Linked DNA regions of Homo sapiens: regions 2, 3 and 4 are each reported to be linked to region 1. The links are microRNA targets in miRTarBase. Many come from high-throughput screens and were not tested one by one. Region 1 holds a microRNA gene; each other region holds the end of a gene's coding sequence.

Region 1 (7,117 bases):
ACGTAAATATTAAAATGCATGGATTTTTTTCTCTCTGAATTCTCTTGAGAGACAACTGACTATTGTAAGGGAAGATTATTTTAAGACTATTTTAAGATAAGACTGGAGATTGGATTTATAATGTGTCAAGTTGATATGACAACAAGAGCACCAGGGATAGCTAATTGCAAATTTAATGGTGGAAGTCTAAATGTTTTCCCTTATAAACCAGAAATAAGGCAAGGATCTCATCTCCCAACACTTTTATTCTATTTGACTAGAGGTCCTCCCCAACGAAATAAGACAAACAAAGAAATACATATTGGAAGGAAAAATATAAAGCTGTATTTATTCACAGACAGCATAGTTGTTTGTATAGAAAATCCTAGGGAATTTACAAGAAAATGGCAATTATTAAAAAGTGATTTACCAATATCATAATATAGAAGGCCAATATACAAAAACCCATTGCATCTCTATATACTAGGAGCAAAAAATAAGAAAATTAAAATTAAGTAATCATTTAGCAACAGCATAAAAATATAAAATATATAGGAATGAATTTAGTAAAGGATGGGCATGATCTTTATAGTAAAAAGTACAGAATATTGCTGAAATTTTTAAATATCTTTATAAATGGAGATATATATATATAGTGGTATCTATCTATCTGTCTATCTATATATATATCTCATGTTCATGTATAAGAAAACTCACATTAATAAGACGTTCATGGCTGGGCACAGTGGCTCACGCCTGTAATCTCAGCACTCTGGGAGGCCGAGGCAGGTGGATCATGAGGTCAGGAGATCGAGACCATCCTGGCTAACATGGTGAAACCCTGTCTCTACTAAAAATACAAAAAATTAGCCGGGCATGGTGGCGGGCGCCTGTAGTCCCAGCTACTTGGGAGGCTGAGGCAGAAGAATAGTGGGAACCCAGGAGGCGGAGCTTGCAGTGAGCCGAGATTGCGCCACTGCACTCCAGCCTGGGTGACAGAGCAAGACTCCGTCTCAAATAAAAATTAAAAAAAAAAAAAGACGTTCATTTTCCTATATTCTTTTACATATCCTACACACTTCCAATCAAAATCCCAGCAGCCTTATTTTTCTTTCTTTCTTTTTTGTAAATGACAGAGTCTTGCTCTGTCACCCAGGCTGGAGTGCAGTGGCATGATCATAGTCCACTGCAGCCTTGACCTCCTGGGCTCAAGTGACCCTCCCACCTCAGCTTCATGAGTTGTTGGGATTACAGGCGTAAGCCACTGTGCCAGGCCTCGGCAGCCTTGTTTTTAAAGACACTGACAAAACTGATTCTAAAAATGTATATAAAAGTGCAAAGGATCTAGAAAATCCACAGAATTTTGAAGAAGAGTTCAGTTGGAGGGCCTATACTACATAATATCCAGACGTTCTCTAGGTCTGTCATGGAGGCTCACACCTGCAATCCCAGCACTTTGGGAGGCTCAGGCAGGAGGATCACTTGATCCCAAAAGTTCCAGACCAGCCTAGACAATATAGTGAGACCCCAACTCTACAAAAAATAAAAATTTAAAATTTCAGAAAGAAAAAAAAAGACTTACTCTAAAGCAGCAGTAATTAAGACAATGAGATAATGGTGTAAGGACAGACATATAGATCAATTGAACCACATTGAGATCCAGAAATAGATTTACACATATATATCAATTGATTTTCCCCAAAGACACCAATGATTTCAAAGTCTTTTCAACAAATGATTTTTATATGCAAAAAACAAACTTTGATATTACCTCATATAATACACAAAAATTCATCTGATATGGACCACAAACCTAAATGTAAAAACTAAATCTATAAAACTTCTTAAAAAATACATAAGATAATTTTTGTGACTTTAAGAAATATGGTCATGAAAGTCACAAACCATAAGAGAAAAATTTTGATAAATTGGATTATATCAAAATTAAAACCCTCTATTCTTTAAAATATCCCTTTAAGAACATGAAAAGAAAAAAAATCCCAGAATAAGAGAAAATATTTGCAATACATATATGAGACAAAGGACTTGCTTTCAGGATACATAAAGAACTCATACATCTCAATAAGAAAAAGACATGCAGCTCAAATTAAAAATGGATGAAAGTCCCAGCACTTTGGGAGGCCGAGATGGGCAAATCACTGGAGGCCAGGAGTTCAAGAACAGCCTGGCCAACATGGTGAAACCCTGTCTCTACTAAAAATACAAAAATTAGCTGGGCATGGTGGTGGGCTCCTGTAGTCCCAGCTACTTGGAAGGGTGAGGCAGGAAAATCACTTGAACCCAGGAGGTGGAAGTTGCAGTGAGCTGAGATCACACCACTGCACTCCAGCCTAAGCAACAGAGCAAAACTCTACCTCAAAAATAAAAAAAAAAAAAAAGATGAAAGACATGAACAGACATTTTGCAAGAAAAGTATATGAATGACCATGTAAGCACATGAAAAAGTGTTCCAGCTTCATTAATCATCAGGGAAATGCAAATGAAACCACTCTGAGATACCACTAGAATGGCTAAAATTTCAAAAACCAACAATACAAAATGTTGTGAGGATGTGGAGCAACGAGAACTCTCATGCATTAATGGTGAAACTGTGAAGTGGTACAACCCTTTTGGAAAAGTTAGGTGATTTCCTATAAATCTGAACACATACTTAACCTATGATCCAGCAATTTCACTTCTGGGTTTTTACCCAAGAGAAATGAAAATGTTTTTCTATACCAAAATTTGTACATACTATTCACAACAGCATTGTCCAGAATAGCAAAAAACTGGAAACAAGTCAAATGTTCATCAATAGGCAAATGCATGGAAAAATTATGATAAATCCATACTCACCAGTAAAAAAAAAACAAAAAAACTAGTGATATGCAAACCAACTTGGATAAATCTCAAAAGCACATTGAGTAGAGGAAGTCACTCAAAAGAGTACAGACTGTATTATTCCATTGAGATGATGTTCTAGAAAAACTAAAATGAATCTATAGTTACAGAAATCAGGTAAGTGGTTACCTGGGATGGGATGGTTAGGATGGGATTAACTACAAAAGAGAAATAGGGAAGTTTCTGGGGTGCTATAAATATTTTGATTGATTTAACAGTTACTGAGTGTATATATTTGTTAAAATTCATCAAAGTCTACATTGAAGTGTATGCATTGTATTATATGTAAATTATGCCTCAGTACAGTAGATTTTTTTAAAATGTTCTCGTAGCTCCCCATTGAACACAGGTGTCATCATGGCAAGACATTTCCTAGCTGAGAGATGCTTTTTCATTCTTTCATTCAAAAAGTAGCTTTTTCTTTCCTTCCTTCCTTCCTCTCTTTCTTTCTCTTTCTCTCTTTCTTTCTTTTCTTTCTTTCTCTTTTTTTTAGTGGCAAGGTCTTGTTTTGTCACCCAGGCTGGAGTGCAGTGGTGTGATCATAGCCAATAGAGGGTGCACAGGCACGGGAGCTCAGGTGAGGCAGGGAGCTGAGCTCACCTGACCTCCCATGCCTGTGCACCCTCTATTATATCACTCGTATGTCTACCATTGTTTGCAGATCGTGAGCTGCTTGATGACTGATGCTAGGGTGACCAACCAACCAAGTATGCCCCAAACCAAAGGGTTTCCTGGGCTTCCTGAGCTAAGGGATGTTCAGTGCTAAAACTGGGAGGCCCAGGCAAACGGGGAAAATGGGTCACCTTATCTGAGACCTTGTGCTACTCATCTCTGAAAGCATTCCCAGGCTTAGCCCCCTATCAGGTGGGTGATGTATGCTCAGTAAATGTTTCCTGAAAGGCTAGAATATGTGTGAGTAGGACACTTGAAATTCTCCTTTGGTTTCCCATGCAAACTGAGTCCTACAGTGAGAAAGCCAAGCGTAGTGGCAGATCCTGCCCCAGACACCAGGCTCGCTTGGGTCCTGCCTAGGGCGCCAGCCTCTCTCCCATGTCATTGGTGTTCTGGAAAGCAGATAAACAACTGACTTCAAGTCCTATTTAAGTTTTATGGGGTAGCCAAGGTCTTCCAGGGCTCCATCTCCAGGAAGCCCCCTCCCTGCAGCCTGGCTGGCTTTTCTTCTTCTTCTGGTGAAGTCATCCGACCCCAAGTGGCCCACAGTTTCCTTTCTCTCCACACCTCCCAAACCCGCTGCCCAGTCCTGGCACTGCCTGGGGTTACTGCTGACCTTTCAGTGCTGTTTGCTCAGAAAGTGCCTTTATGTCAACACAAACAGCCTTCAGGTTTGCCAGGGCCTGGCTCCTTTTCTCCCTGGGGTCCAGGGTAGAAAAACAATAACCAGTGGGAAGGAGAGCGAGCCATAGGGGAGTGACGCGTCCCTGGACCTTGGGTCTCTGTCCTCTCAGCCCTGTCCCTCAGGGCCTCCTTTGTCAGAACTCAGTTCTGTGGGGAGAGGGTACTGGGGAGGCAGCGGCTTTAAACAATGCCACAGTGTCTGGCAGGGAGCTGCGTGCTTGACCTGATTAGGCTCAGTGAGCCCGGGGGAGGGAGGGAGTGAAGGCAGGCTTGGGAAAGTGTTTTCCATCCCCACCCAACAGACTTTGCTTCCTTGTATCTCTGCCAAGACCTCTTTTTGGGGAGGAAAGGCCGAATCGCCTCATTTCTACAGGGGCACCTTGGCCTCGCTCCTCTAAACCTGGGTAAGCTCTTTGACCTGCCTGTCCCCCTCCCTCTTGTCTTTCCTTCCCACCAACCAGCTCCCAAACAGAAAGTGTTTTTCACACTCGCAGCTCTCCCTCCTCAGGCCCTGCCAGGCCCGAAGCTGGGCCCAGAGGCCAGCTGGCACCCACATGAAAGGCCTTCCTGTCGAGAACTGGCATGGAACCCAGGGCCTCAAGGCTGCCCACACCACAGCCCTGGCCCAGGGTCCAGAGCACAGGGCCACGGAAACTTGGCCACAAGGCTCTGGGGAGAAAAACAGCCTGAGCCGCACAGGAGAGGAGCCTCCCATCCCCGCAGCCTGGCTGGGCACATCAAGGGAGAAAGCGCAGTGCCCAGAATCCTTTGAACATGAAGCCGCAGCACCTGCACCTGGCAGAGGACCCGGGAACCAGGGATTCGTGCTGGGGGCAGCACTTGGGGTTTGTTAGTGCAGGTGGAGAGAAAACAGGAGAGTAGCAATTTCCAACCCATCAGCAGAAAAAAGTGAAAGCTGAGAAGTCAGGGTGAGGCTGGAGGGGACAGGATGGGGTGGCTGGGTGGGCCCAGAATTGAGATCTGATTTGCAAAATGGTGGCAAAAGGCAACAGACTGCGGCTCCCTTGAGAGAAAAACCTGGTCTCCCAACCGGCAATGGGTGTGGTTATCAAACGCACAGCCATGCCTGTTCCCAGGATGCAGGTGCAGTCTGGATAAACTGAGACTAGGGTTGGGGGGGATCTGTTCAAGGTTGCACAGCACCTTCAAGATGGGGCTTGAACTACAAACCCAGGACTCCGGACCTGGAAAGAATCTCCTAGGAGGTTCTGGAGGGTTCATTCTTGGACAGAAATCTGGGAGAACCTACAGCAAAATGGCAACAATGTGATTGTGGGTAACTTAAAGTTTGTGGTTTTGTGTGTGGTTTTTTGTTTTTTGCTTACCTGTGCTTTCTACTTTTTTTTTTTTTTTTTTTTTTTTTTTTTTACAGTGAGAAAAAAATACCTGTGGGGAAAAAAACATAATGGAAAATAAGAGTTTTGATGAAATGATACACTACACATAAGGTGTTAAGCAGGATGAGGGGCTGGCATTTAATAATGGATAAATAAAGGTTAAAAGTAATTAGCTTAAGGGGAGAGAGGGCAAGGAAGAGGAAGCAGAAGGAAGGGAGAAAGGGGAAAGAGGAACATCCAAAGTAAGGAAGAAGTCAAAGCTAAAGGAAAGGAGTGAAAGAGGGAAAGGAGAAAGAATATTAACAAGAAGAGTGAATATTGGCCAGGTACAGCAGCTCATGCCTATAATTCCAGTGCTTTGAGAGGCAGAGGCAGGAGGATCACTTGAGCCCAGGAGTTTGAGACCAGCCTGAGCAACACAGCAAGACCTTGTCTCTACAAAAATTGAAAAAATTAACCAGGCTTAGTGGCACGCATCTGTAGTCTCAGCTACTCAGGAGACTTAGGAGGAAGGATTGCTTGAGCCCAGGAAGTCAAGGCTGCAATGAGCTATGATTATGCCACTGCACTCCAGCCTGGGTGACAGAGCAATACCCCACCTCAAAATGTATAATAATAATTTTAAAGAATAAATTTAATTTTTTAAAATAGTGAATATCTTCACGGATTCCTGGATCTCAGTGCTGCCTCGCAAAGACAAAATAAATATCAAAGTATCAGTCATCAAGTTAGCACACTCCTCACCTTCCTTCAGGTCCGTGTGAAAGACCCTGGGTTGGGCTGGACTAGAGGGAAGTTTCCTGAACTAGCTGTGGTTCCAGCTGTGTAGACAGTTAGTTGGTTACTAACAGCATTCACAGAGCGTCTGCAATGGGGGTTGTTTCATATGACTAGTTTCTAGGATTCCATCACACACACACACACACGCACACACAGAAGACACTGGGCACCTCATTTCAGAAGCGTCATGCCTACTGTTTGGAAATGAGTGTTCTACGTGTCCTCTCTGGAGGGAGGCTGAGCTGGAGATGGGAGGGAGTCTTTGCTGCCAGCGCCCTGCAGGGTAATCCAACCATCCTTGGTGACATCATGTTTTCTGAGTGGATGTTTGCTTCAGAAGCTGCAAAATAATCTCAACTTTCAGCCCCAACTTCTCCCCAGGAGGGCAGCATCCTGTGAATTTGGCCAAAACGGAACTCACACCACAGCTCATTAAGGGAGCAATCAGCGAGGGTACCAAAATGCTGCCTCCCTCACACTTTCCACCCTGCATCCCCCATCAAAACTCTCATAGCCTGTGTCTCTCTGGGTGCCAGAGGGAGAGAAAATGCATGTTCCAATGGGGTATTGAGGAAGGGAGAGGAGAAAGAGGGGCAGGTCGAAGGAGCCTGGTAGAGAAAGGGGGTGACCCCACCTGGCTCCCTCCAGGGCTGGGGTCTCTTGTGACAGGCACTGGGCTGATGGAAAGCAGCTGCGGGACCTTGGCAGACCCAAGTGGGGCCAGCTGGAGAGAGAAACTACCC
Region 2 (7,117 bases), not on the chromosome of region 1:
CACCGCTCCCTCTCTCCCTGCCCTTCGCACTAGGACCCTCAGGGACCAAAATCGTCCAAGATGCCTTCCCTGGTGTCGAGTTTATGTTAAGGGGTTGGGTGAGGAGACCAAAAAGCAGTGGATGTGGTAACCACAGGGGCGCCGTGTGTCCGAGTCGGGCGCCTGTCGGAGGAAGCGAGACGGGAGGAGAGGCTGCGGCTCGCGCCCTGGGCAGCGACAGTGTGGACGCCATTGCAATTTCCCAACGGCTGCCACCCGCAGGGTCAACACACAGGCCCCCTCCACCCCTCCCAGTCGCCCACCTCCCATCCCTGCAGAAGCCACCTTAGAGCCGGTGTCTGGGCCGTAAGGAGCCCGGGTGGGGGTCAGGCGGGTGGGCGGAGCGGGACTGAGGCTGCGGGGCGGAACCGCACTCCTGGCTGCCAGCACTGCCTGGGTCCTGGGGAGGCTGCTGGGCCGCCGCTGAGTCCGCGCGCGCCCTCTCCCGGCCGTCAGGAGCATCGGCCAGAACGTCTCCAGATTCCGGCCCTGAACCCGGATGAGGCCCTGCCCAGCGCTCGGTGCTGTCCAAGGAAAATGAGACCTCGAGGTGAAAAGCGCAGAGGCTGTGCACGCTAGGGCCAAGCGGAGGACGCGTTATTACTGTTTTCTTCTTGATGATAAAACCAGGTGTTGACAAATGCCGGAGAGATCGGCATTCGCAGGACGTGGGTTGAATGTAACTTGCATTCTTCCAGTTCGGCAATCTCACTTCTAGAACTCTGTCCTAGGAACATACGAGGCTATTTCAGGATTGCTTACAACCTGGAGGCAACCGGGATGTGTCTGGCCACTGGAGCTAGTGGATTTCACGCATCCCTGCAGTGGGCATCAAGCAGCAAAAAGAATGTTGTGCAGCATTCATAAGAAGGAAGACATTTGTAACACATTATGAAAAAACATATGTGGGCCAGGCACGGTGGCTCATGCCTGTAATCCCAGTACTTTAGGAGGCCGAGGCGGGAGGATGACTTGAGGTGAGGAGTTCAAGACCAGCCTGGCCAACATGGCGAAACCCCGTCTCTACTTAAAAATACAAAAATTAGCCAGGCACGCTAGCGCGCGCCTGTATTCCCACCTACTCGGGAGGCTGAGTCAGGAGAATCACTTGAACCCGGGAGGCGGAGGTTGCAGTGAGCCGAGATCTCCCCACTGCACTCCAGCCTGGACGGCAGAGCGAGACTCTGTCTCAACAACAAATGTGTGGCATCACCTTGATTTTCTGAAAATAAAAAAATTTTAAAAATATATATTTTTTGGCCGGGCGCGGTGGCTCACGCCTGTAATCGTAGCACTTTGGGAGTCTGAGGCGGGTGGATCACCTGAGGTCGGGAATTCGAGACCAGCCTGACCAACATGGAGAAACCCTGTCTCTATTAAAAATAAAAAATTAGCCAGGTGTGGTGGTGCATGCATGTAATCCCAGCTACTGGAGAGACTGAGGCAGGAGAATCACTTGGACCCAGGAGGCAGAGTTTGTAGTGAGCCAAGATCGCACCACTGGACTCCAGCCTGGGCAACAAGAGTGAAACTCTGGCTAAATATATATATATAGCCAGAGTTTATATATACAAATATATAAATATAAATATATATAAATATATAAATAAATATATATAAATATATAAATAAATATATATAAATATATATAAATATGTATAAATATAAATATATATATAGCCAGAGTATATATATTATATACACACACACACACATATATTTTTTAAAATTTACCTCTAAGTAGTGGAATTACTGGAGGTAATTTGTAATTTTTGTCCCCTTTTCAAAATTAAAATTAATGACATCTACACTCAGCAACCACACACATGGGCGGGGGGCACCGTTCTTGGAGCTACTGCAATACCAGGTCGATGCATGGAGTGAACTAAGTAAGCTGCTATTGCAACCCCCTCCTACAAAAATCCACTTTATATACATTTTTTTAGACAGGGTCTCATCATGTCACCCACTCTGGAGCTCAGTGGTGCCATCATGGCTGACTGCAGCCTTGACTTCCTGGGCTCAGGCAATCCTCCAGCCTCAGCCTCTTGAGTAGCTGGACTATAGGTGAGCTCAGGTGATCCTCCTGGCTCAGCTTCCCCAGTAGCTGGGACTACAGGCACGCACCACCACACCTAGCTAATTTTTGTATTTTTTTGTAGAGTCAGTGTCTCACTATGTTGCCCAGGCTGGCCCCCACTGGGTTGGCCTCTGTCATACACCCCGCGGCACCCAGACTCCTCGGTGGCCCTTAGCCTCAGGTTCATAGACTCATCAGTCAGGGATTTCTATGTTTCCTCTGTGGCTCTGCGGGGGATGGGTTGTGACCTGTTTACCACTAGATCCCGGGAACCCTGCTTGGGCCTGTACATCAAAGTCCCCAAGAAGTGAAGGAGCAAGAAAGTGGCAGAATTTTTAAAATTTTCAATTTAATTTAAAAAATTAATGTTTTAAAATTTGTGTTTGGATTTAAAATGTGAATGGATATCCATAATTGCATTTTTTTTTTTTTGAGATGGGGTCTCGCTCTGTCGCCCAGGCTGGAGTGCAATGGCATGATCTCGGCTTACTGCAACCTCCACCTCCTGGGTTCAAGTGATTCTCCTGCCTCAGCCTCCCGAGTAGATGAGATTACAGATGCCCACTGCCACGCCTGGCCAATTTTTTGTATTTTTTAGTAGAGACAGGGTTTCACCATGTTGGCTAGGCTTGTCTCCAACTCCTGACCTCAGGTGATTCACCTGCCTCAGCCTCCCAAAGTACTGGGATTACAGGCGTGACCATGACCGGCCATAATTGCAATTTTTTAAACAGTTATTTGTTTTTTGAGATGGAGACTCACTCTGTCACTCAGGCTGGAGTGCAGTGGTGTGATCTCAGCTCACTGCAACCTCCACCTCCCGGGTTGAAGCCATTCTCCTGCCTCAGTCTCCCGAGTAGCTGGGACTAGAGGCACCCACCACCACACCTGGCTAATTTTTGTATTTTTTTTTAGTAAAGACGGGGTTTCGCCATGTTGGCCAGGCTGGTCTTGAAATCCTGACCTCAGCTGGTCCGCCCGCCTCAGCCTCCCGAAGGCAGGGATTACAGGCATGAGCCACTGCACCTGGCCTATTATTTCAATTTTAATATCAAATTGCTAACACTAGGCTGGGCACGGTGGCTTGTACCTGTAATCCCAGCACTTTGGGAGGCCGAGATGGGAAGATCGCTTGAGCCCAAGAGTTTGAGACCAGCCTGGGCAACACAGCGAGACCCCATCTCCTCAAAAACTCAAAAAAGTAGCCTGCCTGTAGTCTCAGCTGCTCAGGAGGCTGAGGTGGGAGGATGATTGCTTGAGCCTGGAAGGTCTGCTGCACTACAGCCTGGGCAACAGAGCAGGACCCTGTCCCTGTCTCGAAAAAAAAATAAAAATAAAAGTAAAAATAAAAAATAAAGAACAGGAGAGGGGCTCCGGGATATGGGTGGCAAAAAAAGGCAACATGGGGTCCTAACCTGGCCATTTTTGTCCTCACTGCTCACTGGGATGTGGTGTGGATGATGCTGGGTGATATCACGGAACCAGCGGCGATCCTCTCAGGCACACTCGCATTAACATGGCTATGACTGGGAAGGGTGTGCTCAGAGGTGCAGGCAGAATGGTTTTGGAGTCTGCTGCCTGCATTTGGATGGTTTGGCAAAAGAGAAGTGTGTGGAGGAGAGACAGAGGGAGGGAGAGAGAAAAAAGAGGAGAGAGAGAGGGAAGGAGAGCCGGGGAACCCAGGCCAGGGCGATACAGTATGCACTGCGTGCTCCTGCAACTTTTATGCTCCAAATGTTTCAAAATAAAACCAGAGGGTGAGGAAAACAGTGATGTGGCCAGGCCCAGTGTGCAGGCTCCAGCTCCCCAGTATGCGTCTCCCTCCCGGCCGACTGCCAGCGCCACTGAAAGACTCAGGCCCAGGGCACCTTTGTCATTCCCCCAACTCCACTAAAAGGTGGCAGCAAAAATGCTCCCCCGCTCCCGGCCCTGCTGCTCCACAGCCACCCCTCACTGCTGGGTAAGGCTTCCCAGGCAACAGCAGGAGGGGCCCGATGGTGCCACACTGAGTACAGGGCAGACGCGCCCCACAGTGACCCTGCCCTCTGACCCACCCCGGCCTCCTCTTCCTCACTCCCACTTCTTGAGGTTGCACCCGAAACGTCCTGCCCTGACATCCTCAGGTGTCCTTAACATCTGACAAGAACAGACAGCCAAGGGTACTTGGGAACAGGCCTGGAGCAGTGGCTCACACCTGTAATCCCAGCACTTTGGGAGGCCGAGGCAGGCAGATCACCTGAGGTCCAGAGTTCCAGACCAACCTGGCCAACATGGTGAAACCCCATCTCTACTAAAAATACAAAAACAGCCAGGCATGGTGGTGCGCACCTGTAATCCCAGCTACTTGGGAGGCTGAAGCAGGAGAATCGCTTGAACCTGGGAGGCGGCAGTTGCAGTGAGCTGAGATCACACCACTGCACTCCAGCCTGGGCTACAGAGTGAGACCCCATCTCAAAAAACAAAACAAAACAAACGAACAAAAAAACACTTGGGAAAGGAGAAAGCATGGTGGAGAACACAGAAACCATCTGAATATAAAATCAGGGCCAGGCATGGTGGCTCATGCCTGTAATCCCAGCACTTTGGGAGGCTGAGGCAGGCAGATTACCTGAGGTCAGGAGTTCAAGACCAGCCTGGCCAACGTGGTGAAACCCCATCTCTACTAAATATATAAAAATTAGCCGGGCGTGGTGGCGGGCGCCTGTAATCCCAGCTACTCAGGAGGCTGAGTCAAGAGAATCGCTTGAACCCGGGAGGTGGTGGTTGCAGTGAGTCCAGATCGTGCCACTGCACTCCAGCCTGTGCGACGAGTGAAACTCCGCCTCAAAACAAACAAACAAAACCCTAACATTGCCTTGAGCCCAGAGGCAGTTGTCAAAGAATGAGGACTCATGGGAAGCCTCCTGGAGGCTCGCTGACTTGGGAGCTCAAGTAGGGTAGCTGTGCTTCCTTCATCTCCCCTCCAGCAGGGATGGCACCCAGGGGGCCAGGGCAGGAACTCAGGTTTCCTCAGCCCACAAATCCCCTGGAAAAAACATGACAGGCAGGCCGCATGTGCTTTTGTCAGGTTCCTCCCTGAACCCACCCATGAGCTGCAGGCCTACCTCTCCCTCAGCAGAATCCTGGAGCTACCATTCTCAGCAAGCCTGAGCTCCCTTAGTGCCTGGGAGCTGTCAGTCTGGGAGGCTTCATGGAGGAAGCGAGACTTGGGTCAGGGAGGGCAGTGACTAAGGGGCACTTTGGAAGGGCCCAGTAAGGGCTGGGGTGCGGAGACCCAGGGGTGGTGGCATCAGAGCTGAGCCTCAAAGGACCCAGAAGCCTGGGATGTTTAAAACCTGCCCATTATGGGGTCTAGCGAACAGCTTCTTTTATTCTTGTTTGAAAGTATTTTTCTGCTTACAAAAGTAACTTATACTTGATCTAAAAAAAAAAAAAAAAAGAAAAGAAATCACACAATGTTAAAAGCAAAGATTCACCCATTTGGCCCCAGAAGCCCTGCGGACAGAGAAGAGCCTATGGCTGGGTTGGTGGCCTGGGAGGATGCGCCTGTTGTCAAGGTTACAGGGACTTGCCGGGCGCCACAGAGCAGGGGGCAAAGTTCTCCCCAGCAGCCTCAGGAGGCCCCGCTGCTAATCCACTGTCTTCTGTTCTGTCTGTGCCTGCGAGAGAAGAGGGTGGATCAGGCTGGTGTCAATGGAGATGGGAGGGCTCAGCTTGGCTGTTGGGGGTCTACCAGGCCTCACTCTCACCCCAACCAGTGGATGCTCCAGGGCCAGAAGCCTCTGCCTGACTGAGAAGTGACTGCCACTCAGGGACGCTGCTCCCAAGGCCACCAGGCCAGGGCCACAAAAGCTGCTAAAGTCATTTCCAGGAAACTTGAGGCCAAGTTTGTGCTGAGCACTGGGAAGCCGCAGCCATCGCCTCTGCTGGACCTGGGGTGGGGATGGAAGGATGGAGGAGTTGGCAGATGGGGGTGGTCGATGCCTGAGGGTGATTGCCTGCGGGACCCCTGGCGCCTGATGGAGCCCTGCTCTGCCTTTCATCTGGCGAAGATGGCTGTGCTCCAATTCTCACAAAGGCACCACGGCCCCAGGCCTAGATGGATCCCAGCAGTGAGCAGGAGTCTCAAAGGGGCTGGGAGGACCTTGAGATGGTCTCATTCCACAGAGCTCAGGTGTAACAGATCCTGAGCCAGACTCCAACCCCCTCTGCCCTCTGCAGGGACCTCCTGGTGGCCTCAGAGTGGCGACTTCGCTCCTCTGAGCCCTGCCTCCCACAGGCCATGGGGACTGCATCCTCTGCCCAAGGTTGGCAGGAGAAGCCAGGGGGACAGGCAGAGGCTCTCAGAGCAGGACTGGATGGTGGGGGCTTCGCAGTAAGAGCCAGGCACTCCCACCGGCTCTGGGAGGACGGGGTCCCTCTGAGTCCCAGAGCACTGCTCACACCAGGCCTGAGACTCCAGCAGAGGGATGGAGGCCGAGGGGTCCATTAGGTTCCTTGAAAGCTCCAAGCCTGTGGCTGCGGACACCACCATCTCAGGCATTCTGGGGTCTCAGCCCCAGGGAGGCTGTGGGGCTGTGACCCTCTGTGACCTCAGGCCACTCACCCCTCAATTTCCATCAGTGAGGCAGGGTCCCTGCACGGCCAGCAAACTGAAGGAACCTTTTCTCACAATGGGCTGCCAGGCTGAGTGCCCTGGCTGACCCCAGGGGACCACCTGTTCTGGCTGACCCCAGGGGACCACCTGTTCAGAGGTCACAAGCCAAGGCCACCTGCTACGCCTCTTCTTCTCAGGGCACGGCAGAGCCCACTCCCAGTTGGGAAGAAACCCCAACTCACCTTCTTCCCACCCACTGGGCAGCCCCCTGCCCCATCTCCCTGGAACTTCCAGTTCAAAAGGTGTACCCAGCCCATTTCCTCTGCTGCCTAGGGCCCTGCCCCCACCGCTGCCTGCCCTGGTAGAGCCCAGAGGCAGGACCTGCTGTGGGGCCAGGAGGG
Region 3 (7,117 bases), not on the chromosome of region 1:
GCTGTTACTTTTGGGGAATGTTCTAGGCCAGAATTAGAGAAATAAGTCACCATTACAAGGATGGTATTTGATGTCATGGGCTTGAATATGGCCAGGGACAGAGCCGTAGGGCACTCTAGCATTTCAAGGTTGAGAAGGAATCAGCAAAGGAGATTGGGAAATGGCCAAAGAAGAAAAAAGGAGAGGCCAGGCGCAGTGAGTCACGGCTGTAATCCCAGCACATGGGGAGGCCAAGGTGGGCAGATCACCTGAGATCAGAAGTTCAAGACCAGCCTGGCCAACATGGCGAAACGCTGTCTCTACTAAAAATACAAAAATTAGCTGGGCCTGTAATACCAGCTACTTGGGAGGGTGAGACAGGAGAATCGCTTGAACCTGGGAGGCGGAGGTTGCAGTGAGCCGACATCGCACCACTGCACTCCAGCCTGGGCGACAGAGTGATATTCTGTGACAAAACCAAAATAAAAAAAGAAAATAGGAGAGCGTAAAGACATGAATCAATAGTAATGAATGCTGCTGAGACATCAAGATAGAGACAAGGGGCCAGGCGCAGTGGCTCACGCCTGTAATTCCAGCACTTTGGAGGCCAAGGCGGGTGGATCACGAGGTCAGGAGTTCAAGACCAGCCTGGCCAACGTGGTAAAACCCTGTCTCTACTAAAAATACAAAAAATAGCCAGGTGTAGTGGCGGGCACCTGAAATCCCAGCTACTCGGGAGGCTGAGGCAGGAGAATCATTTGAACCTGGGAGGTGGAGCCTGCAGTGAGCCGAGATCGCACCATTGCACTCCAGCCTGGGACTCCATCTCAATAAAAAAAAAAAGAGCGACAAGGAACCAGTAGATTTGACAAACATAGCAGTCACTCGTGATCATAACAAGAGCAAGTCTCTGCAGTAGTGAGAACAGAAACAGCTGGAATGGGCTGAGGAGAGAATGTGAAAAGTAGAGAGAGTGACTATAAAGAGCTCACTCAAATGCTGCTGCAGAGATAAGAAATGGGACAGTATCTGAAAATGGAACATGAAGTAAGGGAGTGTTTTGATAGTAATATACTAGAGCATGTTTGTACACTAACGGGATGATTCAGTAGAGAGGGGGAGCTGATGATGCAAGAGAAGATAGTTACAGTAGGGAAGTCTAGAGAAGACAAGAGAGGCTAGGATGCAGAGTACAGCTGGTAAGATGGCTTTTGATAGGAGCAGGAACCTTTTCATCTATTACAAGAGGAAGAAAAGTGGCCACAGATGCAGGTGGGTTAGGAGGAATGGTGGTGGGAAGATGAGAGAGTTCTGTTTAATGACCTCTACTTTTCAATGAAACATTAGGCAGTGTCAGAAGAAGATAGCAAGGAAAGGAAGAGAAGTTCTGAAGAGTGGAAAAAATGAGCCAAAATGTCCAGGCAGTATTTGGTACCTTTTAAAATCTGTGGCCATGAATTTAAACTATCAGCATGGCTCTGTTTTCCCTCCCAAGTGCAAGCAAGTTGGGTTTAACCAGGAAAGTGGGACAATGGGAGGAGATAAAGGAGGTAAAAATATTTATAAGGGGGTGATGTTAATGTACATTGAAATCAAAGTAGCTGAGCTGGAAGGGGTAAGGGGGTGATCAGATTTTGGAGGTGATAGTGTGAACAAGGCAGGGGGATGACAGGCTGATGTAGGGTGGGAAAAAATGATCACTGGAGGTGAAGAGGTCAACTGAAACACCAAATTATTAGATGAATTAATCATCCTTGTGGATGTTGGTACCTAAAAGTAAACTTTTGACTTTTGTCTTCCAGTCTTCTTTCTGTTAGTGGTTCCCATTACTAAGTCAGAAACTACGAGTCACCTTGACTTCTCTCTTCCTCACTCTCAATCCACTCCTGTTGCTACTTCCTCCTAAGTAAATCTCAGACTACTCCATTCCCCTCGTCTACTCTTTTACCCTAGTCCATGCCAGCATTATCTCTTTCCTGAACTACTCAACCTCTCAACTGGTGTTCCTGCCACCACTGTTGACCTGTTTTCATCAGTTTTTCACAGAGCATACATGTTTAAAAATAAGTCTGGTCACATCACCCCTTGCTTTTACAAACCTGCAGTGGCTTCCCAGTACCATTGACTCAAGATCAAACTCTTCCAAAGCCCCACAGGGTCTGGACCCTCTGCTTACCTCTCTAATGATAGCTCATACTACTTTCTTCAGTGGTAATAATTTTTAGCCATACAGGCCTCATTACTGTCTCTTGAACAAATCAAAAGTTTTCCTGCTTCTTGGGCACTGCTCTAACCTCGACCTAGTACATGTTCCTTCAACTCTTCATAGCTGCATCTATCTCATCCGGTAGTTCTCAATTTAATAAAAACAGCTCATTTTGTACTTTTTGCTACATACTAGTCTAGCAGCTGTCTTTTTTTTTTTTTTTTAAGAGGGTCTTAGTATGCTGCTCAGGCTGCTCTCAAACTCCTGGGCTCAAGCGATCCTCCTGCCTCTGCCTCCCAGTGTGCTGGGATTAGAGGCATGTGTCACCACACTCAGCCTGTACCTGTATTCCTAATCTTCATTGCAACCTTGTGAAATAAGTGGCATTATATTCATCCCCATTTTACAGAAGAGGAACCTAAGCTCTAGTTGAAAGTAACTTGCTGAAAGTCACATAGCAAGTGAGCTCAGATAAACTTAAATGTACCTCAGAAGGCCTTCCTTGAACACTTAGTCTAGATAGGTTCTCCCATTTCTCTTTATTGCATAAACCATTTTATTTCTTGGTAGCATGTAACATAATTTAGTAATTTTGTGTTTTTTTCCCTGCCTCTAGAATTAAGCTCTCTGAGGTCAGGAACTTAATCTGTCTGGTTTACTTCCTCCTGAGTAGCCAGGACTATAGGTGTGTGCCACCACACTTGACTAACTTTTAAAATTTTTTTATAGAGATGAGGTCTCACTATATTGCGTAGGCTGGTTTTGAACTCCTGAGCTCAGGTGATCTTCCTACCTTGGCCTCTCAAAGTGTTAGTATTACAGGCATAAGCCACTGTGCCCAGGCCTGGTTTACTTTTCTTTTCTTTTTTTTTTTTTTTGAGACAGAGTTTCACTCTTGTTGCCCAGGCTGGAGTGCAATGGCACCATCTCAGCTCACCACAACCTCTGCCTCCCGGGTTCAAGCGATTCTCCTGCCTCAGCCTCCTGAGTAGCTGGGATTACAGGCATGTGCCACCATGCCCAGCTAATTTTTGTATTTTTAGTAGAGACAGGGTTTTGCCATGTTGGCCAGGCTGGTCTTGAACTCCTGACCTCAGGTGATCTGTCTGCCTCAGCCTCCCAAAGTGCTGGGATTACAGGTGTGAGCCATCACACCCGGCCACCTGGTTTACTTTTCTAATCTTTAGTGCCTAGCATATTGTCTGGCGTAGAGTGGGGACTTCATAAATGCATATTTTTGAATGAATAAGTTGTCTCAGAGAGTAGCCCTTCTTAGAAGGGGTGAATTTAGAGTTAAGCTTCTTACCCATTTAAGCCATGTTGCTTGATCCTGCTGTACCTTTTCAGTCCCCGCATCAGAGACTTCTCCTGGGCCTCCCCCAATGGGGCCTCCACCTCCTTCAAGTAAGGCTCCCAGGTCCCCACCTGTGGGGAGTGGTCCTGCCTCTGGCGTGGAGCCCACAAGTTTCCCAGTCGAGTCTGAGGCTGTGATGGAGGATGTGCTGAGACCTTTGGAACAGGCATTGGAAGACTGCCGTGGCCACACAAGGGTAAGCTCTGGCACATCAGAGGTTAGAGAGGGCTCCCATCCACAGCCAAATGCAGGAATGGTTCCCAGAGATAGACCCTCTGACCCAGTGGACAGGTTCTTAATCCTTTGAGAGTTACGGACTCCTTCAGAATCTGCTAAGGCCTTCCCAAAGAAATGAACACAGGATTTCAGGAGCATTAATAAGACTTTTGAAGACCAATCAGTAGAAGATGCTGTGGGAACAAGAGTTGAATTCAGCTCCTATTAGTGAACAACCTGATTTTCTGTATCTCCATGCCATTCAGAGCAGAAGCTGCTGATTTTATTCTCAGGAAATTTATATTGTGCCCAGTTAGGGAGAAAGAAACCTCTTCTAGCTATAGTGTTTTCTTAGTTCTTAGAAAAAGAGATCTGAAGAATGTCTTAAAAGAAAGGGAAAGTAGCATGGTCATTTCACCTCTTTGGCGCTTAGTTTTCTTTTTGTGAAGTAACGCTACAGGATGAGCTTCTGAGAGTCTGAGAAGCCCCTGAAATTTTAGAATTCTAGTCATAGTAGGAGGTGGGTTAGGAAGACTGGTGGTGGGAAGATGAGAGAATTCCTGTTTAATGACCTCTACTTTTCAATGAAACATCAGGCAGTGTCAGAAGAAGACAGCAGGGAAAGGAAGGTTTCATCAGTTTCTCAGTGGGGCCTCTAATCTTTGGGTAAAGAACCAGAATTCTAAAGTGTGGGCCAGAGAAAGCAGGTGCTTCCTATGTGGTGCTGTCTTCCCCTCTCCTCCCCTCATTGGGCTGGCAGCACTGAATTGGAGGGGGGCTTCTGTCTCTTAGAAGCAGGTATGTGATGACATCAGCCGACGCCTGGCACTGCTGCAGGAACAGTGGGCTGGAGGAAAGTTGTCAATACCTGTAAAGAAGAGAATGGCTCTACTGGTGCAAGGTATGGGTGGGTTCTTTGGTATAGCCTAAATCCCTTTCCTGCTGTGGTTGGCTATGCTGGAGCAGGTGCTGAGATTTTGATTGACTGGGAGGGGAGGCATGGAAGCTCTTGTACCACAGGCTGCTTGCTCAACCCCCGTCTCTCTTCAGAGCTTTCAAGCCACCGGTGGGACGCAGCAGATGACATCCACCGCTCCCTCATGGTTGACCATGTGACTGAGGTCAGTCAGTGGATGGTAGGAGTTAAAAGATTAATTGCAGAAAAGAGGAGTCTGTTTTCAGAGGAGGCAGCCAATGAAGAGAAATCTGCAGCCACAGCTGAGAAGAACCATACCATACCAGGCTTCCAGCAGGCTTCATAATCCTCGGTTCCCCAGACTCACCGGACACCATCTCCTATGCCTTGGAGACCTTCTGTCACTTGGCTCCCTTCTTACCACCACCAAGACTGTCCCACTGGGCCTGACCCACCTATGAGGGAAGAAGTCCCACCTGGGCCAGAGGGAGTTCATGTGTTACTCATAACATGCATTTCAATAAAAACATCTCTGCGGTGGGCCTTGGGTAGGAGAGATGAACCCTTCCGGTGCCAAGCTAGTCCCCTCTGGTGTCCTCGACTGCCCTGCTCCCTGTGTATCTGCAAACCTCTGTTCTCCCTTCTCCATTCATCAGGAAGGGATCTGCTGGGTAAAGTCAGACTACTGCCTACCACTTTTTCCCAAAGTAGACTGAAAGCACATCCTGTGCTGGGCGGAGCAGCTGTGTTTGGATGGTTTCATTTCAGCATGAGAACAGACTCAAATAGAACGGGGAGACTTTTCCCTCAACAAAAGGAAAGACAGTCCTATTTGCACTGTATCACCCTTGAGATACTACTGTTACAGAGATTAGAACCACATTGAGTGGGGTTTTCTGTGTAAATCGAAGGAGAAAAAGACCAGATTACTGAGATTGGGGATTGTAACTCTGACTTGCCAAACAAACTGCTGCCTCATTTTGGGTTTCAGTGTGAACTCTAAGGTCTCTTGTAACCCTTTGAGAGAGGTACTTGGTGGACTATCATGCTGTGAGAAGGGTACAAGGTTTTTGGTGTTGGAATAGAGGAACTGGTGCTTAGAGGTGGGAAGCAGAAAAGGCACAGGGAGAGACAGGATGGCTATAGGCTGGGACAGCACCTCTTTTCCAAGAGTCCTGCTTTGGAATGGATAGGGGAGGGGCTGCTGGGGGGCCCTGGTTCCAGGAAGGCTGCTTCCTGGGAAGACAGGAACAGCCCTTGGCAGTGGCCAAGCTATTGCTGTTTATGGTTTGGAGGCTCATGTAACCTGCCACTGTAGCGTGCCTCAGGTTCTAATTGCTGCTGGAAGTGGGCCTGGTGGGAGCTGGGAATGATCTGAGGCCTCTGAGCTTAACCAGGCCTGCCAGGGCCTTCAGCTGTGTGGCTGAGATGAGAAAATCAGCATTGAGGAGAACACTGGAGCCAAGGCATTTCTTTGAATGTTTACTAAGCAGTCAGAAGGTGACTTACTCCATTCCCCAGTTCCAGCCCCTGAGCATAGAGGGTTTAGGGTTAGGAGGAGTACCACAGACTGAAGAGGAAGTAGAGTTAAGGGCTTGGCAAGTTGCCCACTCCTATCCCTGGTCTAGCTGCCTCAGAACTAAAGGAGGCCTGGAACTAACAAGTCACTCCCTTCCAGATTAGATGAGGCCAGCTGGCCTTTGGATGCCCCAGGAAGAGGTGGTGGCAGCAGTGGCATGAGGGATCCCTCTGTAACTCCACATGCCAGGTCATCTGCACTGGATTAGATGTCCATTTCAAATTGTGCGTCATCTGGAGAGAGAAAAGGCAGGAAGACAGGTTGCTGGTCTGAGGATCTGCAGGCTCAGCATCAGTGCAGAAACCCCTCTTGGAACTGAACCCCCGCACTGTGTCACAGTGGCATTTGAACTCAAAGGCTGGGACAATTCTTAATTCCTGCTTTCCTTACCGGGTATCTCTTCCTCTGTCTCCTGCTCCTTCAGCTCCTCCAGCTTGGAGAGAGGGGCTGTTGGAGGAGTTGTGACCCCGGGAATCTGAGGGAGGCAGCAGGGGGGTGTCCGGGCAATGGGTGAGTTCTTGCACTCCAGCAGGAACTTTCGGTCGTAGATGATCCTGGTGCCTGTCAAGGGGTTGGGACTGAGGTAAGAGTCAGGAGCTTGGGTACCGAGGTGACTGGGGTCCCAGACTCAGGCCTTTTGGGGCCTGGAGGTGAGGGTGGTGTCAAATTTCCCTGTGTATCAAAGGACATCGGCTCTGAAGCCCAGCTAGGTTCTCAGCAGACAAGCCTTCATAGTGCTTAAAATCTTCCAGACCTAACCAAGATGTGGGTATAAAGCAAGGGGGGCATCCCAGCTGGTATAGGCAGGGGCTTTATGTTTGGGAGAGCTTCAGATCTTGGCTCTAAGAGGAACACCAAACTTTGAGT
Region 4 (7,117 bases), not on the chromosome of region 1:
TCCTCTGATCCCTGTGGTAAGGCTTCACACATACCTGGTTCTTAAAATGGCCAACAAGTATCAAGTCAGGTCTACCTCCCATGGTCTCCATGCTCCTCTCTGAGGCCATCTCTTCCCTAATTCCAAACCCTCGGAACTGTATTTCATCCACTAAAACACTGGTTTTTGCTCTTCACTAGTTCTTCCCTGACAGGTGCAAAGTCTTCTGATTTTTCTCCTTGTTTCCTACACATTCTTCCTCCACAAAATCCATGGGCTCTTGTCCATGAGAGCAGCTCCTGTGACAACACCAAGTTCAAAGTCCTCTCTTTTTCCACCTAGAAGTAAACTAATCACCTCATGAAAGGGTAACTAACTTCTGCTGTAGATAAAGACATATCCATCCTTCCTATCTGAAACACCATTAGCCACAGACCAGCATGCCTAAATGCCTAAACAGGTGAGAAACTAAAGAAAAGGTGGTATCTGAAATCTCAGATGACAAAATGTTACAAAGTAGGCTTTTTTTGAAGGGAGGAAATCTCCAAAAAAGTGCAGCAGTCCACCGAGGGCAATGTGGTCCTGATCCCTTAGACGAGTGCAAGATTACACTCTTCTTCTAGGCAGATGTCTCAGTTCCCAAATGGGGACACTGAAGTATCAGACCTTACTGCAGACCAGGATGAAGCAATAAAACTTACGACTAACTGGCCTCTGAAGCTTAGCCTGTCCAGGGCAGTGGTGGGAAGTTCCCATGAGATGCCTGTTCATTATGTCCAGAGGCACGGATCTTGCTTAAAGTCAATGCCTTTCCAACTAGCCCCTCAAACAAACTTTCAACTTAAAGTTAGCAAAGAAAAAAGATGACCACTTTGTCCAACAGAGTAGGACTCACAGGACTCCTGACTCGTGATACCTAACCATCAGCTATTGAGAAACTTCATAACCACATATGGACAGACTCATGCCTGCCTATCGGAACACCATGCATCACACACACTCCCAGGACCTGACATGCATAGGCGTATAACCCAGAGCATATATTCACCTTCTCTAACCGGACTATACTTCGCATCTATCCTGAGACTTGGCTGAGGGAGAGGAAAAGAAACAGGAGGCAAAGAAAACAAGACCAGCCACTCAGGCACCACCCTTGGCCGATACAGTCCCATGGTGCTAGACAATAAGCGACATCTCTTGCTGTAACCACAGGCAAGCTAATCCTCCACCTGAGGCCTCCTTTTCTTCATGTGTAAAATAAGGGACCCAAGGTTCATTGCAGCTAGCTGTAATACTCCTGACTCTCAGGCCTCTACCAGTTCTCTACAGACAGGTTGCTTTCTGTGAGAAACAGAACCAGCAGAGAGAGGCCTGGTAGAGTGAGAAGCAGGATGCAGAACAAAATCAAGGATTGACTTCCAGAAAGGGACATGGGGTTCATATTCTGATCACCCAGTTTCCCTAGAAATGTTGTCAGATGACCCCTGGGACAGCAGGAAGACCGAGTAACAAACTGGGCTGGATTGTTGGCCCGAAGCAGCTCCTAGAGGTCTGGGCATTATACCACTGGTACTCGCTATCCTGGCAGGACCCTCACTAACACCAGTGATGACAGTGAAAACAGTAACCTGCCCAAGACCAAGAAACCACAGAGACCTCAATTTACACATGCACTTTCCTAAATGACAGGTCAAGATCTAAAACCCTAGCTCAGATTACGGTTCATCGATCTCCACCCAAAGGCACCTTCAGCTCCTCTGCCAAAGCAATGCAAAGTCTTGCTGGCCCTCTTTGTCATCGCTTGGTCTTGTGAGCAATTTCAAGCACTCACAAGTGAACCTAAAGAACTGAAATCCACAGGAAACCCAAGCTTGATCCTCCTTATTCCAAAATTCTAGTTAGTGAAGTTGGTGTTTCGGGTCCTTTTACTTCCTCTGCTCATTCCTAGTGTGGGGATTCATAAAGAAATGGTCAGAAGGCAAAGAGCAAGTGGTTGGAAGAGGGAGAATAAAGACCCTGAACAAACACCACATAAACAGTCTTCCAGCTTAAACTGTCAGGATCCAACTTCCTGGCAGGGGCTGTTGAACAATCTCAAAGCACCCTAAGGACCCAGGGGACCTATCTCTCCTATCTAGGACCATAATCACTATGCATCATCACAACATTGCAGCCACACAACAGATAAGTCAACATCTTTAAAATGATCACCTTCAAAAACTATGGGAAGACATATTATTTCTACTATGAATAGTCCCTCCTTATAACCAGGCATCCTCTTCTCTCAAATGGTTAATAGCCATTCTTTCTTCTCCCTAACCCAGAGAGACCCAGGTGAAGTGTCTGGTTCAAGGAAGCCTGTGCTTCTCCAGTTGATACATCTTGTTCAAGAGGGAAAAAAAAGGAAACCCAGGGTGGAGTTCTACATTCAAAGGTAAGGAGGCCTGGAGGATGGAAGAATTTGAGCAGCCACAACAACCAAACGATCAGAAAGAGAGGACTATTTGGGCAGACCACTGCTACTTGACAGAGCTGGCAGCCGGCTGTAAGGAACAAGGGGGAATATACACCCTCACAAACAGGATGAGGGGGGAGGAGGAGAAGCAGGGATGAAAGCGACTCCACTGCACTGAGGCCTTGCCTTTGCGCTCCATGGGCTGCCCCAAGCGAGCACGCCACACGCAGGAAGCCAGAAGGGCTGGAGGGAAGGGGAGGTGGCGACGGCAGACCACAGAGACACCAGGCCTCGCGTGGCGTGCGGGGAGTGCACACGGGGCCGAAAGGCGTGCAAGGGTGGGGTGGGCGTGCAAGTGGCTTGGCGAGGGGTGGCAGGCGTCACCGGCAGGGCCTGCGGGGCAAGGGCCCAGGGCTGCAGGGGGCGTGGGAGCGCGCGGGGCCGCGCTCAGAGGGGCGCGCAGGAGCTGGTTACCGTGTGGTTCACCCCCCACATCAGGACGCTGAGGATCGGCTCGCTGGCCCGGAATAGCTTCACTTTCTGGCACACGAAATGCTTCTTCTTGGTCTTGGTCTTGCTGGCGCTGAGCGGCGCCACCGCCACCGCCGTGGTGCTGGTGCAGTTGGACGACATGCCCGGGGCGGCGGCGGCGGCGGCGAAAGAGGGGGGCGGCGGAGACAGCGCACAAGCCAGCGGCCTCAGGCCTCCCCCGGACCGATCCCCACCCCCGCTCCCTCACCGCGCCATGGTCGCGCCCGTCCCGTTACCTCCCACCCCGCCCCGGTGGTTCCGTCCGCCCCACGCCCCGCCCTCCCGCCCCGCCCCGGGGAGCCCGCCGGCCCGCTCCGCACCCCGCCCCCGGGCGGTGCAGCCGCCCTGCAGTCCCCTGGCCCCGTCCTCCCCGTCCGCGTGGTACGGCCCGTCCCGGGGAGGCAGCGGCCGCCCCGCCCGCCCCTCCTCCCCGGGCCTGACAGAAACCCGCCTGGCCTCCGAACGCCTCGGGGCCCCGTGCCGGAGCCGGAAGGGGAGGAGGGCTGGGCAGGCGTCGCTGTGGACCGCGGGAGGGGCTCCCCGCCCGGGCCCCCCAACGCCAGGGTTTGGCTCTTTCCCGCAACCCGAATGCCAAGATGGCGGCGATGCCACCGCTCCGGAAGGGAAGGAGGGACGGGAATGCGAGGAGGGCGGGACGTACCATGCCCACCCCGGGGGAGAGGAGGGACGCAGCAAGGGGAAGAGAAAGTCCAGCCTAGAAAGCCAAGGAACGCCCCCTCGCTCCACCTAAGCGTGGATCTGCCCACTCTGCTGGGCCCCGGGCGCGCTCCACCCGCGGGGCACGCCCCTTGCCCCCAGGGCCAATGAGAGAAGCAGGCCAGGAACACTGGTTTTTATGAATGGGCCCCGCGCCCACCCACCTGCTGCCTGTTCTCCCCGCAAAGGGTCAGAGCTCAGAGGCCGCCAGCACCTTCAGACACCTATCCCACTAATCGTCTTACTCTGGCTCATTTCGTAAAATCTTTGAGTAAACTGCCCCACGCTTTGTTACATAATTCTCAGATGAGGGATCTCCATATATTCGACACAAATTACAGGTCAACGTTGTTCTTTCTGCATGGAAATTCGTAAACACGGTACTCCACAGGTGGTCGCTCTTTAAACAGTTACAAAAATAAATGTGGCCTTTATTACCAATTATAAAATAAACATAATTAACCCCGGCATAATGAAGTGATTAAATGAATAAAAACGTATGTTACATTCTCTAGGGAAAGATCGGGTTTCAAGCATTACAGTGCCTGGCATCATAAGTGTTCAAAAACAGAAATCCAAATACATTTTAAGCAGAATTAGGAATTAGCAGAACAAGGAAATCGCCCAGCTAATGTGCGGGTCAAGAGGGCCTAGGAGTTCACTGGTCAAATGAGGGCTTCTGGTGAAAGAATAGAGAAGGGAAAAGGAGTAAAGACAGGAGAGTGGCCCCTCGAGGGTTTTGTTTTGTTGCTGTTGTTTTTTGAGACGGAATCTCGCTCTGTCACCCAGGCTGGAGTGCGGTGGCACAATCTCGGCTCACTGCAAGCTCCGCCTCCTGGGTTCACGCCATTCTCCTGCCTCAGCCTCCCGAGTAGCTGGGACTACAGGCGCCCGCCACCACGCCCGGCTAATTTTTTGTATTTTTTTAGTAGAGACGGGGTTTCACCGTGTTCGCCAGGATGGTCTCGATCTCCTGACCTCGTGATCCGCCCACCTCAGCCTCCCAAAGTGCTGAGATTACAGGTGTGAGCCACCGCGCCCAGCCTGTTTTTTGTTTTTTTTTTAGTACCTGACTGAAAGAGACTAGCAAACAACTCCTGAAAATCTGTAATTGTAGTAAGGTTACTACACGGTAAGAAGTGAAGCCGCAAAATAAAAACTTCCATTTTATTTTCCTTTAGGAGCCATGGAGCATATTGGCAATTTGGTTCTGACTCCTAAAATCATTTTACTATACCTTTACACTGCCTACATTGGAGACTGCAAGCAGTGGAAAAGAATAGATACTCCAGATCTCGTCGATAAACCCAGGCTCCTCCTAAACCAGCCAGATTCAGAGAGAAAAACGAGCTGGCCTGCCTTATTGTATTACTTGCCATCAAGGTTCAATGTGGTTCTATTACCCAGTAAAGTCATTGACCAAACAAGGTATTTTCACAAAGCTAACCTTTTTTAAAAGCATGTAAAAATTGTACATTTGTACATATACGCATTACAATTTTACATCCAAAGATCAAATAGTTAACAGTTCATTTAGGGCTTTTTGTATTGTTTGATTTTCCAGATTCTGTCACTCCCTTGGCTTTGACCTAACCTGACATCATTCTGTCACATTATCTTCTAAATCAAGTAAACGTTCATTTGTCTCAGTAAGCACAATCTATCTGGGTGACACCAGAGAGGTTTCTGAAGGGTCTGGTGTACGCTGAGGCAGTGAAATAGGTCTGTTGGCACAGGTAAGAAGGAAGTGGCATGATAAACATCACAACCCCAGGGAACAGCCTTCCAGAGTGGCACAAGCACTCCCACCGAGATGGTCCAGTGCCCACCCGTTAAAGAGTCAAAACCCAAAGTTACTGAGTGTCCCACAAAGCAAGTCACACTAGCTCTCAAAGGAAGTGAGCTGTTTCAGGACTCAATGAAGCAGGGTCACTTTGAACACTGGTGGTTTGACATCTGTGAAAGAAGTCATTTGAACTCTTATAAAGAGAATTAAGGGGTCAGCAGCTTCCCTGGAAAATGCAGGAAAACCAATAAGAGAGGGGACAGTTTTCATCTTTTCATAAAGTTCTTCTCCAGAGCTACCGAAGTTCTCTGTAAAGAGTAGATATTCCGCTTCACCCGATCCTCCAGGGAGGAAGTAGATGCACTCTCCAGCTTCATGCGGCTAGGAAGAGAAGACAGGCAAATGCAAGTCAAAAACATTTTCAATCAGTCAACTATTCTGGCAGCTTCAGAAGAAATGGGTTGTTAGCCATAGAGCAGCTGTAAAAACACAACCTCTTTTAAGCTCCCATAGATAACTTTCGAGTGACTCCACCTGGAACCAAATGTTTTTAAACCAGTGTCCATAAGGGAAAATGTATCTGTTTTGGAAAATAAGTCAAAGCCTCATTGGAAAAAGGCTTCCTGGGCCATGAATTCTTATTAAAAAGGAAGGTCAAGGAATTTCAATGATTTAGAAAATACCAAATTCACTTCTCCTCCCCTCAAATGAAAAACATCCCACTGTGTGGTCAGAAAGGAAGAGTAGTAGCCAAGGTGGTCTGAAGGCTGGGCTCCATGTGCAAACACAGAAACACTGGAACGGGAACCAGCTGCCAGCCTGCCTCTTAAGACCTTCCCCATGAAAGACCCTGGCAGGAAGAAGATGCACTCACTGGATGAACTTCCCATCCCGGGAGTCCAGCTTCTCTAGCCTCTGCTCCCGTTCCTCATCCTTAGCATGCCTCTTGAGGATGTTCAGTCTCTCCTCCTCCCTCCATTTGGCGTTTTCCATCATCTCTTGCCGTTTTCGCTCTAATTCCTCTGCAGAGAGTTTTCTGTTGAGCACAGAAACCATACGATCAGGTCTCTTCCAGCAAAAAAACCAGAAGCAGCACAAGAAGCACAGAAGCCAGGTGGGACCCCAAGCTCTCCAGTTCACTGCTCTCTCCAAGTGCAAGGCCAGCCTGAGTTCCCTTCTAACGTCCTGGTCAGGAGGTTTCATCCAAATTTCAAAGGCTTTTAGTAAAGTATTCCATAATCTCACTCAGTAATCTCTAGAGTGATTATTCTGAAATATGAAATATGAAATAAATTGGGAACTCATCAGGAACCTAAACTTGTAGCAATTATATCCCAATGGTTTGCTCAACAATTGACAGAAGAACAGAAGACTAGGTTATCCATGTAACTGTTAACATCTACCATCTAACTACCCATTGGAGACTAGAAATTCATGACACAGCCCATGAGTACACTACTTTAGGACTAAGCTAGAAGCCAGAAGCTGAAGGAATAACTTAGCCTCAGAAAATAATAAATAGGGCCAGGCATGGTGGCTCACGCCTGTAATCCCAGCACTTTGGGAGGCCAAGGCGGGCAGATCACCTGACGTCAGGAGTTCGAGACCAGCCTGGCCAACATGGGGAAACCCTGTCTCTACTAAAATTA

The links. The annotated mature microRNA hsa-miR-3622b-5p reads AGGCAUGGGAGGUCAGGUGA and lies in region 1 at 3,477-3,496, opposite strand. An mRNA with a match to its seed (bases 2 to 7 or 8) in the 3' UTR can be bound and repressed. Matches are read on the target gene's strand: a 7mer-m8 pairs with bases 2 to 8, a 7mer-A1 pairs with bases 2 to 7 and ends in A, and an 8mer does both.
Region 2: miRTarBase lists FLYWCH2 as a target of hsa-miR-3622b-5p. The part of its 3' UTR that is shown has no 7-base or 8-base seed match.
Region 3: the mRNA of EIF4EBP3 is a reported target of hsa-miR-3622b-5p. Seed matches in the 3' UTR shown: 7mer-A1 at 6,404-6,410.
Region 4: miRTarBase lists CWC25 as a target of hsa-miR-3622b-5p. Seed matches in the 3' UTR shown: 7mer-A1 at 5,431-5,437.

What each region holds. Positions count from the first base shown.
Region 1 is chr8:27,698,250-27,705,366 of GRCh38, forward strand. MIR3622B (microRNA 3622b) reads right to left here and starts at 3,518; the gene lies at 3,424-3,518. It overlaps MIR3622A (microRNA 3622a), which reads left to right and starts at 3,428; the gene lies at 3,428-3,510. LOC124901920 (a long non-coding RNA gene) reads left to right here and starts at 2,721. Exons shown (of 2, transcript XR_007060869.1): 1 at 2,721-7,117. It also overlaps a transcript of SCARA3 not described here. RefSeq lists a silencer at 4,885-5,030 and an enhancer at 6,528-7,028.
Region 2 is chr16:2,897,710-2,904,826 of GRCh38, reverse strand. FLYWCH2 (FLYWCH family member 2) reads right to left here. Exons shown (of 4, transcript NM_138439.3): 4 at 5,462-5,778. The coding sequence ends at 5,678. Among named protein-coding and RNA genes, the nearest start is that of FLYWCH1, 11 kb to the left of the region's middle. RefSeq lists a silencer at 259-488.
Region 3 is chr5:140,548,600-140,555,716 of GRCh38, reverse strand. It overlaps EIF4EBP3 (eukaryotic translation initiation factor 4E binding protein 3), which reads right to left. Exons shown (of 3, transcript NM_003732.3): 2 at 6,641-6,811; 3 at 6,141-6,483. The coding sequence ends at 6,455. It overlaps ANKHD1-EIF4EBP3 (ANKHD1-EIF4EBP3 readthrough), which reads right to left. Exons shown (of 36, transcript NM_020690.6): 35 at 6,641-6,811; 36 at 6,141-6,483. The coding sequence ends at 6,480. It overlaps SRA1 (steroid receptor RNA activator 1), which reads left to right. Exons shown (of 5, transcript NM_001035235.4): 3 at 3,533-3,735; 4 at 4,548-4,656; 5 at 4,806-5,649. The coding sequence ends at 5,017. Among named protein-coding and RNA genes, the nearest start is that of EIF4EBP3, 4.5 kb to the right of the region's middle. RefSeq lists an enhancer at 6,985-7,117.
Region 4 is chr17:38,796,358-38,803,474 of GRCh38, forward strand. It overlaps CWC25 (CWC25 spliceosome associated protein), which reads right to left. Exons shown (of 10, transcript NM_017748.5): 9 at 6,343-6,504; 10 at 4,084-5,849. The coding sequence ends at 5,735. It overlaps PIP4K2B (phosphatidylinositol-5-phosphate 4-kinase type 2 beta), which reads right to left and starts at 3,199. Exons shown (of 10, transcript NM_003559.5): 1 at 2,909-3,199. The coding sequence starts at 3,067. RefSeq lists an enhancer at 2,376-3,194.